3 separate regions of the Homo sapiens genome follow, and all the other regions are linked to region 1. Evidence: fine-mapped expression QTL. A gene starts in region 1. Each other region holds a variant in brackets. All regions are shown on one strand. Distances are from middle to middle. Region 1 holds the start of GSDMD (gasdermin D). Region 2 has its middle 12 kb from the start of MAFA-AS1. Region 3 overlaps ZC3H3 (zinc finger CCCH-type containing 3).

Region 1 (2,727 bases):
AAGGCCCCGGCCTCTGGAAGAGAGGCCCAGAGCTAGAGGCTGCAGAGCCCAGTGGATGGTTGGCCCCAGCCCGCTCCCCTCTCCCATCCAGCCTCCCTGGGGCTCTGCCTCAGCACCACATCAGGCACCTGGTTCCGCGGCATCCGGCTCCAGGATGTCCTTGATAGACAGGTTGACACACTTATAACGGGGTTTCCAGAACCATGAGCTTGAGGGCTTCCTAACCACCAGGCAGTAGGGCTGGAAGCCAGTGGAGCTCTGCAGGCTGGTCACAGGGATGAACTCCCCACCATGGTCCAGCTCCTGGACCACTCTCCGGACTACCCGCTCAAAGGCCGACCCCATGCTCCTGAGGAGGGGAAATGGGTCAGGCATTGTGCTCTCGGGGCGGGCGGGAGGGAGTGGGAGAAGGGTCAGTACTTGGATGTCTCCCATGATGGGGGACTCCTTCCCTCCAGAACAGCCCTGCCCAGCTCATCCTGGGATGCTCCCACTAGCAGAAAGCTTCTGTCCCCGGCCCTCCCCAACACAGAATTACAGTGTTCTCCCTGTTGTCTACGGTACCATGAGCACCTCCAGCCAGGGACAGTGAGGCCTGACGCCCAGACCTGCTCTAACACAGAGGGCTCTGTCCACTAGAATGGCTGCCTCTGGCTGGGAGGAAACAAGCTGTCACCTCCTGAGCGTGGTGCAGGGACCCACTGCAAAACCCAGCCAGAGTGTCACCAGGGACCCACTGCAAAACCCAGCCAGAGTGTCGCCCCACCCCAGCTGCGTCCTCCAGGGCCTTCTCTGTGCCTGGAGCTCCATGAGCCACCTGTCCAAGGCTGAGGCTTTGGGGGTCAGAGGCCATAGCGGGCCTCCGCTGGGATAGGGGGCACCTGGGCCACTGTGGAGGGGCTGCAGCTGCCCCAGGAAGCCTCTGAGTGCTGGGTCTGCTGAAAGTGGAGGCTGGGCCCAGAAGGCAGCTGGGGGCGGGAACAGCACCGGCCCGGGAACCTGGATGGCGGACCTGGGAGTCAAGCCCAAGCCCAGGTCCAAAGGCCGGGCCCCTGGGCTGGCCAGGGGCAGCCTTTCCCGAAGCCTGGAGCTTCCGCCCCCGTGTGCGGCGCGGGGCCTTCTGGGCGAACGCTGGGGCAGCAGGGCCAGCATCCCCCACCCGGGAGCCAGCGGCCGGCCCCACTCGGGAGCTCCAGCCAGGCCGGGGGAGGGGGCGGGGCGCAGCTCACCGTGACCGTCGGCGCCCCGAGGGTGGCGCGTCTGGCGCGTCTGCTCTCCCTGGGAGCCGTCCGGCGAGCAGGAGCTGGAGGTGCCCAGAGCTAAAAGTGAAACTGCAACCTGACGCAGGGCCCGCCCAGGACGCCCTCCCGGAACCGTCCCGGAGAGCCCGCCCCGGCCCCCTTCCTGCCCCCTCTTCCCGCCAGCCCGCCTGGAGCACCAGCCTCGCGCGTCCGGAGGAACCTTGGCTTGGCGCCCCATCCTGGTAGCCTCAAACTTCATAGCACTTTGTGGTTTTTCTTAAAACTCTGAGCCTGTGCCCGGGCGGATCACCTGAGGTCGGGAGTTCAAGACCAGACTGACCAACATGGTGAAACCCCGTCTCTACTAAAAATACAAAATTAGCCCGGCGTGGTGGCGCATGCCTGTGATCCCAGCTACCTGGGAGGCTGAGGCAAGAGAATCGCTTGAACCTGGGAGGTGTAGGTTGCAGTGAGCCGAGATCATGCCATTGTACTCCAGCCTGGGCGACAGAGTGAGACTCCGTCTCAAAAACAAACAAGCAAACAAACAACTTTGGGCCTGTGCCGAAGGGTCTGGGCAGATCTTCCAAAGATGTACAAAATGTAGAAATTGCCCTCAAGCAAATGCAAAGATGCTCAACACCCTTAGTCATCAAGGAAATGCAAATGGAATCCACAGAGAGATACTGCACACTGACAAAGATGGTCGTATTACTAAAGGTGAATAACCAGCGCGGGGGGCACGTGGAGTCACTGGAACATTTGTGCAATGCTGGTGGGAATGTCAACCCGTGCGGCCCTCTGGAATAAGCCTGGCAGCTCCTCCAAGAGTTACCGTGTGACCCAGCAATTCCACTCCTAGCTCCACCCACAGGAATTGAAAGCAAAGACGCAAACAGATGCCTGTGCACCAAAGTTCACGGCAGCATCCTTCGCCATAGTGGCAGCATCCGTCGTCACAGCGGCATCATCCTTCATCATAGCGGCAGCATCCGTCGTCACAGCGGCAGCATCCTTCGCCACAGCGGCAGCAGCTGTCGTCACAGCGGCATCATCCTTCGCCATAGCGGCAGCATCCTTCGCCAAAGCGGCAGCATCCTTCACCATAGCGGCAGCATCCTTCGCCATAGCGGCAGCATCCTTCGCCATAGCGGCAAGGTGGAAACCCTGTCCATCCACTGAGGCGTGCATAGACTAAACATGGCCAGTCCAGGCACTGGAATCCAGGCCGTAGAACGGCGCCCACGGTCAAAAGGAATGAGACCCTGATGCACTGGGCGACACAGACGGGCGACACAGACTTGGAGACATCATGCTAAGTGAAAAGCCAGGCACACGGAGCGGACGGCGTGATCCTGCTCACGTGATGTGTCCCGAATGGGCACGTCCAGAGGGAAGAAGGGAGATGGCGCTGCCGGTGCCCGGGACGGGGGTTGGGAGCGACGGTTGCTGGTTTGGGGTTTCTTTCTGGGGTGAGGAAGTGTTT
Region 2 (2,748 bases), 160 kb after region 1:
ACCCCCACACATCCGCCCTCAAACCCTCACCCTCAGGGCCTCTCTGGCTTCCGCCACCCTTCCTGGGTGAGGGGCCCCTCCACCTGCCCAGCCAGAAGGATGCCCGCCCCTCGCCAGAGCCCCTTGGGGAGACCCCATGCTGAGCGAAGGTGGTGGGCACAGGACACATGCTGTGACCCCAGTGACCTAAGGCTCTGAGGCTCCGATTCACAGGGTGGGGACGGGGGCTGGGGAGGCGAGTGTTTCACGGGAACAGAGTCAGTTTGGGAAGATGGAAGATTCTGGAGGCACGAGGATGTGGGCGCGCTTCACACCACTCAGGTGCACCCTCAGAGATGGCTGAAATCGTAACACATTTTACCGTAATCACAATTTTAAGTAATCAAGCCGTCCTGTGGGGTCCTCTATGGAGGCCCAGCTCTGAGTGGGACACTGGGCTTGGGAGGTGACCGTTTCAGGACAGCCTGTCCTGGGGCTCACGAGGCCAGCCTAACCCTCCTGCCAGGGTCGGGGTGACTGAGGGAACCAGGGGACATATGGGTAGGTGGGCCCCTTCCATCACTGCCCCCTAGGAGGAACAGTGACAGTCCAGGAGGGGACAGTGGGAGGGTAGAGCACCCAAGGTTTGAGCAGAAGGGCATGGGCGGGGCCCTGCCGCCCAGCACCCTGTGGGAGTCCCTGGAGGGCAGGCCTGGCCCAGGCCAGACCCAGGAGGGCTCTGGGAAGAGCAGGGCTGGAGGCAGGCGCCACATACAGTCAGGGTCCAGCTCCTGGAACAGAGGAGTCAATGCTGGGGGTGCGGGGAGGGAGTTCCCTCGATGGCAGTGGAATCTGGGACCCTCAGGCCACTGGAGCTTCCCAGCCTGGCAGGCAGCCACTGCAGGCCTTCGCTGTCTGCGCCCGCCCTGCACTCCGCACCCTCGCTGGGTTGGCGTCCGGGACAGGGCAGGCCGGAGTGGGAGCACCCCCATGCGTGGGGCTCTGGTGTTGGCGGGAGGTCCTCAGGCCTGGGACCCTATCTTGGCAGTGGGATTTGGGGCTCAACAGAAGGAGCAATTCTGCCTCAGTCCAGTCACTGAGGGGCCTTAACTCCCTCCCTGGAGCCCCAGCAGGCGGCTTTGGGCTTCCCTGTCACACAGAGGCTGGGGATGCTGACCTGGCAGCGGGCAGAGTGAGGCCGCGGGAGGGCTGCCTGTAGAGACAGGGGCCACCGCCAGTCCAGGAGAGATTCAGAGGGCGTCTGGCTTGGCCCAGCCACGATCGACCC[C/T]GGGAGGCTCTTCCGAGGTGCATAAAACTGCTTGTTCTCCCGGTTAGAAAAATGGCCCTGCTCTGGGATAATTGATTGATTTTCCTCTTTAGGAATATTCACAAGCGCCAGTTCCAAGAACGGATCAATCCTAGCCTCCTCACAAGTCAGCCACGGGGAGGGGGAGCAGCCAAATGCAACCACCCCACGGCAGGGCCCACCCAGCCTCCTCTCAGCCCCACTGTGCACCCCCAGACGCTGTGCCAGGGTGGGGAAGGGATGGATGCTGGGGGCAGGGGCCGGGCCTGCCCTTGGAGGCTTCAAGTCAAGCCTCAACAGAGAGCCCTGAACAGGCCAGTAGGTGAGTGTCTAGGTCCCACCTAGCCAGGTCCCATATGCTATGTGACCCTGCACAGGTCTCTGGACTTCTCTGGTGCTAAAATAGGAGCACAAGTCCAGCCCCACAGACCTAAGGGCTGTATCAGGGTCCTAGGAAACCTTTCAGCTGCTCTTCCAACCCACTCCCCACAGTGACCAGGCGACCTGCTCCAAGTTCTGGCCCTGCCAAAACTTATTCTGCAGCCCCCACGAGCTGGCCTGCCTGACCTCCTCTCCCTCCTCCCTAACTCCCCACACCATGCTGTTTCAAGCTTCCTCAGTCAGCCTAAAGAACTCCTATTCATTCTTCAAAACCCTCTGCAGTTGCCCCTTCCCAGGGAGAACTGTACTTCTCCCCTTTGGGTAGCTCCATCCTGGTACCTGTGCACCAAGGACTTGTCCCCGGGCGGCTCCCCTCACTCCTCCAGCCCATAGGGACGGAGGGCTTACAGAATAGACGGCTGGGGCCCAGGCTCCTACAGGGAAAGCAAAGACCCAGGTTCCCAGAGTGGGTAGTAAACCAGTCTCAAGTGTGTTTTTCTTTAAGTGCTTATCTGTTCAGATGAGCTCACATGGTGTGTGCATTATAAAACCCACCACCCAGAAACACACAAGCTTATTCAAGGATTTACCGCAGCCTGGACAACAGAGCGAGACCCTGTCTCTACAAAAGATAGAAATAAAGTAAAAAAATTAGGCTGGGTGCGGTGGCTCACACCTATAACCCCAGCATTTTGGGAGGCTGAGGCGGGCGGATCACTTGAGGTCAGGAGTTAGAGACCAGCCCGGCCAACATGGTGAAACTCCATCTCTACTAAAAATACAAAATTAGCCAGGAGTGGTGGCACATGATCTCAGCTACTTGGGAGGCTGAGGCAGAAGAATCACTTAAACCTGGGAGGCAGAGGTTGCAGTGAGCCGAGATCTGCCTTTGCACTCCAGCCTGGGCGACGAGCAAAACTGCGTCTCAAAAAAAAAAAAGTTAAAAAAAATTTTTAAAATTAGCCAGGCACAGTGGCTCATGCCTGTAATCCCAGCACTTTAGGAGTCTGAGGCAGAAGGATCACTTGAGCCCAGGAGTTCAAGACCAGACTGGCCAACATAACCAGACCTTGTCTCAACAA
Region 3 (2,748 bases), 120 kb after region 1:
TCACAGTTCACATTGGGGACGCCTGTCGCTTAGTCCCATGAAGAGCAGTTTGGGTGCCCCATGCAGTGGGCTCTGCAGGGTGAGGGGGAGGGCATACCCTCCCTGAAAGGCCTTGGGCACGAGGCAGGCAGGCAGCTGGGCTGCAGAGCAGAGCCCGGGAGGGGTGGGCAGAGGAAGGGCAGGCTGGGCGCCCTGCACCACAGGCCAGGCTGGGCCGCTGGGGCCTTGGGCAGCCTCTTTGTGTTTCCCTGTGGGCCTGGTAGGAGAGCTGGGGCCATGTTGCTGCCCAGAGCACCTGCTGGCTGGCACACCCCCTGCCCTGTGGGTATAATTAGCACTGTGACAGGTGCTAGGGATCGCGTGCCCAGCCCAGCCCAGCCCTGACCCAGTGCAGCCTGGCCTTGGCTGACCTGCCCCACCCTCTCCCGGCCCAGCCTAAGACCCCCAGGTCTCTAGCCACACCCACCTTCCCGGGCTCCCTCTGTGCTGCCAGGATGGGCTGGCTGGGGTCTGGCAGAGGCAGCGGGTGGGCAGAGCCCTGAGCCATGGCCTGGCTGCAGGCTCTGGGAGTCCCCACGCTGGCCCAGCCCCGCCCTGCTCTCAGTCTGTGCCCAGGGCCTACAGTTGGCTGAGGGCCTCTTGTGGGTGGGTGAGGGCCCAGGTGGAACCTCTCTGGACTGGTGGCCTCAGCCTTCCAAGAGGAAGCCTTTGGCCCCAAGACTTGGACGGAGCCTATGGGGCCCCGTGGGTACTCGGGGGGCCTGGCCTGGCTCTCCTTGCCTTCCCCGTGCAGCGCCACAGCCTCCAGCCGGCCCACCCACCTGCACCCCTTCTCTCTGCAGTGCAAGAAGAAACACACGCTGCTGTGCCCCGACTTTGCCCGCAGGGGGGCGTGTCCCCGCGGCGCCCAGTGCCAGCTGCTCCACCGTACCCAGAAACGCCACAGTCGGCGGGCAGCCACGTCCCCCGCCCCAGGGCCCAGCGACGCAACCGCCAGGAGCAGGGTCTCGGCCAGCCACGGGCCCAGGTGATGGGGCAGTGGGCACTGTGCATGTGAGCCTGGGTGGCCCCCTCCCTGTCTGGGGAGATGCCCGGGGCCCTCTGGTTGAGCTCCCGCCAACTCCAGCTCTTTGGGCCTCAGACCAGAAAGAAATCCCTATCCAAGGCTGGGGATCACATGACCTCCAGAGATGCCCCTACCCCACTTCCAAGTCTGGACAGAGCCAAGGGCATCCCTGGCCAATGGAGGAAGGTGGGGCCTCACAGAGACCTGCTCACTGGGACCGGGTGGGAGGCCCAGCCCCGGGAGGAGTCTGGGGGCCCCCTCATCCAGCCCACCTGCCATGTGGGTGTGGAGCCCCATGGAGACCAGGAAGCCAAGGCCCTGGATGTGAGGGGCAGGCTCGGTGTGGAGCTGGGGCCATCCCTGCACCCAGCCTGTCCTTGCGGCCAAGGGCCAGGCCTGACCTGTGCCTCCAGCTCTGCCCTGAGACCACGGAGGGCCACGGGAGCAGGAAGCAGCCAAGAGCATGGGCAGTCTGTCGCTGGGATCCCCACCCGTCACCCCACCTCACACGTCTGCCCCTTCCTTCCCTGCAGGAAGCCTTCAGCATCCCAGCGCCCCACCAGGCAGACGCCCAGCTCGGCTGCCCTCACTGCGGCTGCCGTGGCTGCACCTCCCCACTGCCCAGGGGGGTCAGCCTCTCCCTCATCCTCGAAGGCTTCCTCCTCCTCCTCCTCCTCCTC[A/CTCA]TCCCCTCCCGCTTCCTTGGACCACGAGGCACCATCTCTCCAGGAGGCTGCCTTAGCAGCAGCGTGCTCCAACAGGCTCTGCAAGCTGCCTTCCTTCATCTCCCTGCAGTCCTCGCCGAGCCCAGGAGCCCAGCCCAGGGTCCGGGCCCCTAGGGCCCCCCTCACCAAGGACTCAGGTAGGCAGCACGGCCTGGCTCGGGCCCCCAGGGCCCCCCTCACCAAGGATTCAGGTAGGCAGCACGGCCTGGCTCAGGCCCCCAGGGCCCCCCCCTCAGCAAGGACTCAGGTAGGCAGCATGGCCTGGCTCGGGCCCCCAGGGCCTCCCTCACCAAGGACTCAGGTAGGCAGCATGGCCTGGCTCAGGCCCCCAGGGCCCCCCTCACCAAGGGCTCAGGTAGGCAGCATGGCCGGGCTCGGGCACAGGGGAGCTTTAAATGCCCCCTCAGACCACCACGTCAGAATCTCCAGGTGGGGCCTGGGTGAGTCCCACGGGCGCCAGGGGTGCACCTGCCAGCCCTGGGGCAGGGCCAGCCAAGGTGCGAGTGTAGCGGTGGCCGCTGCGCAGTCTGCCCCAGCTGAGGGCTGATTTAATTAGAAAGCACCCATTTCTGTTAATTTGTTCTGGAAGATCACCACGCACTCCTGGAGAGAACAGATGTTCCCTCTCCCCCGATGAGCATTTGGGGCTTGGTAAATGGCTCCACTCAGCCTTGTTTAGGAGAGAAAAGAGGATTTTATGGCTGCAAACGACCCTTTCTGTAAACATTTTACAGCTCTCCGCGCGTTTGAGTGACGATAAACCCCACGCAGCTCGGCGGGCTGCAAATTTGCGACCATACGGCTATCATTTTATTGTCATATTTCACGGTCGTAACGTTAATGGAAGATGCTTGCTGCAGCCTTCTGCAACAGCTCCGCTGAGCACACTCAAATGCCTGCCTCGGAGGGGCCGCCTCCTGTTCACAGCCTCCACGTCAGGGGCGTGGAGCCGTGGCCAGACCC

What was found.
Region 2: its variant is fine-mapped to the expression of GSDMD in whole blood (TOPMed, PIP above 0.99).
Region 3: its variant is fine-mapped to the expression of GSDMD in whole blood (INTERVAL, PIP 0.92).

What each region holds. Positions count from the first base shown.
Region 1 is chr8:143,556,954-143,559,680 of GRCh38, reverse strand. GSDMD (gasdermin D) reads right to left here and starts at 1,335. Exons shown (of 11, transcript NM_024736.7): 1 at 1,230-1,335; 2 at 129-349. The coding sequence starts at 345. It overlaps LOC100310756 (a long non-coding RNA gene), which reads left to right and starts at 1,410. Exons shown (of 1, transcript NR_147504.1): 1 at 1,410-2,727. RefSeq lists an enhancer at 879-1,520.
Region 2 is chr8:143,395,143-143,397,890 of GRCh38, reverse strand. No RefSeq gene overlaps it. Among named protein-coding and RNA genes, the nearest start is that of MAFA-AS1, 12 kb to the left of the region's middle. The variant C/T (reference allele first, on the strand shown) is at 1,268.
Region 3 is chr8:143,439,215-143,441,962 of GRCh38, reverse strand. It overlaps ZC3H3 (zinc finger CCCH-type containing 3), which reads left to right. Exons shown (of 12, transcript NM_015117.3): 10 at 843-1,027; 11 at 1,600-1,922. Among named protein-coding and RNA genes, the nearest start is that of MAFA, 9.9 kb to the right of the region's middle. The variant A/CTCA (reference allele first, on the strand shown) is at 1,747.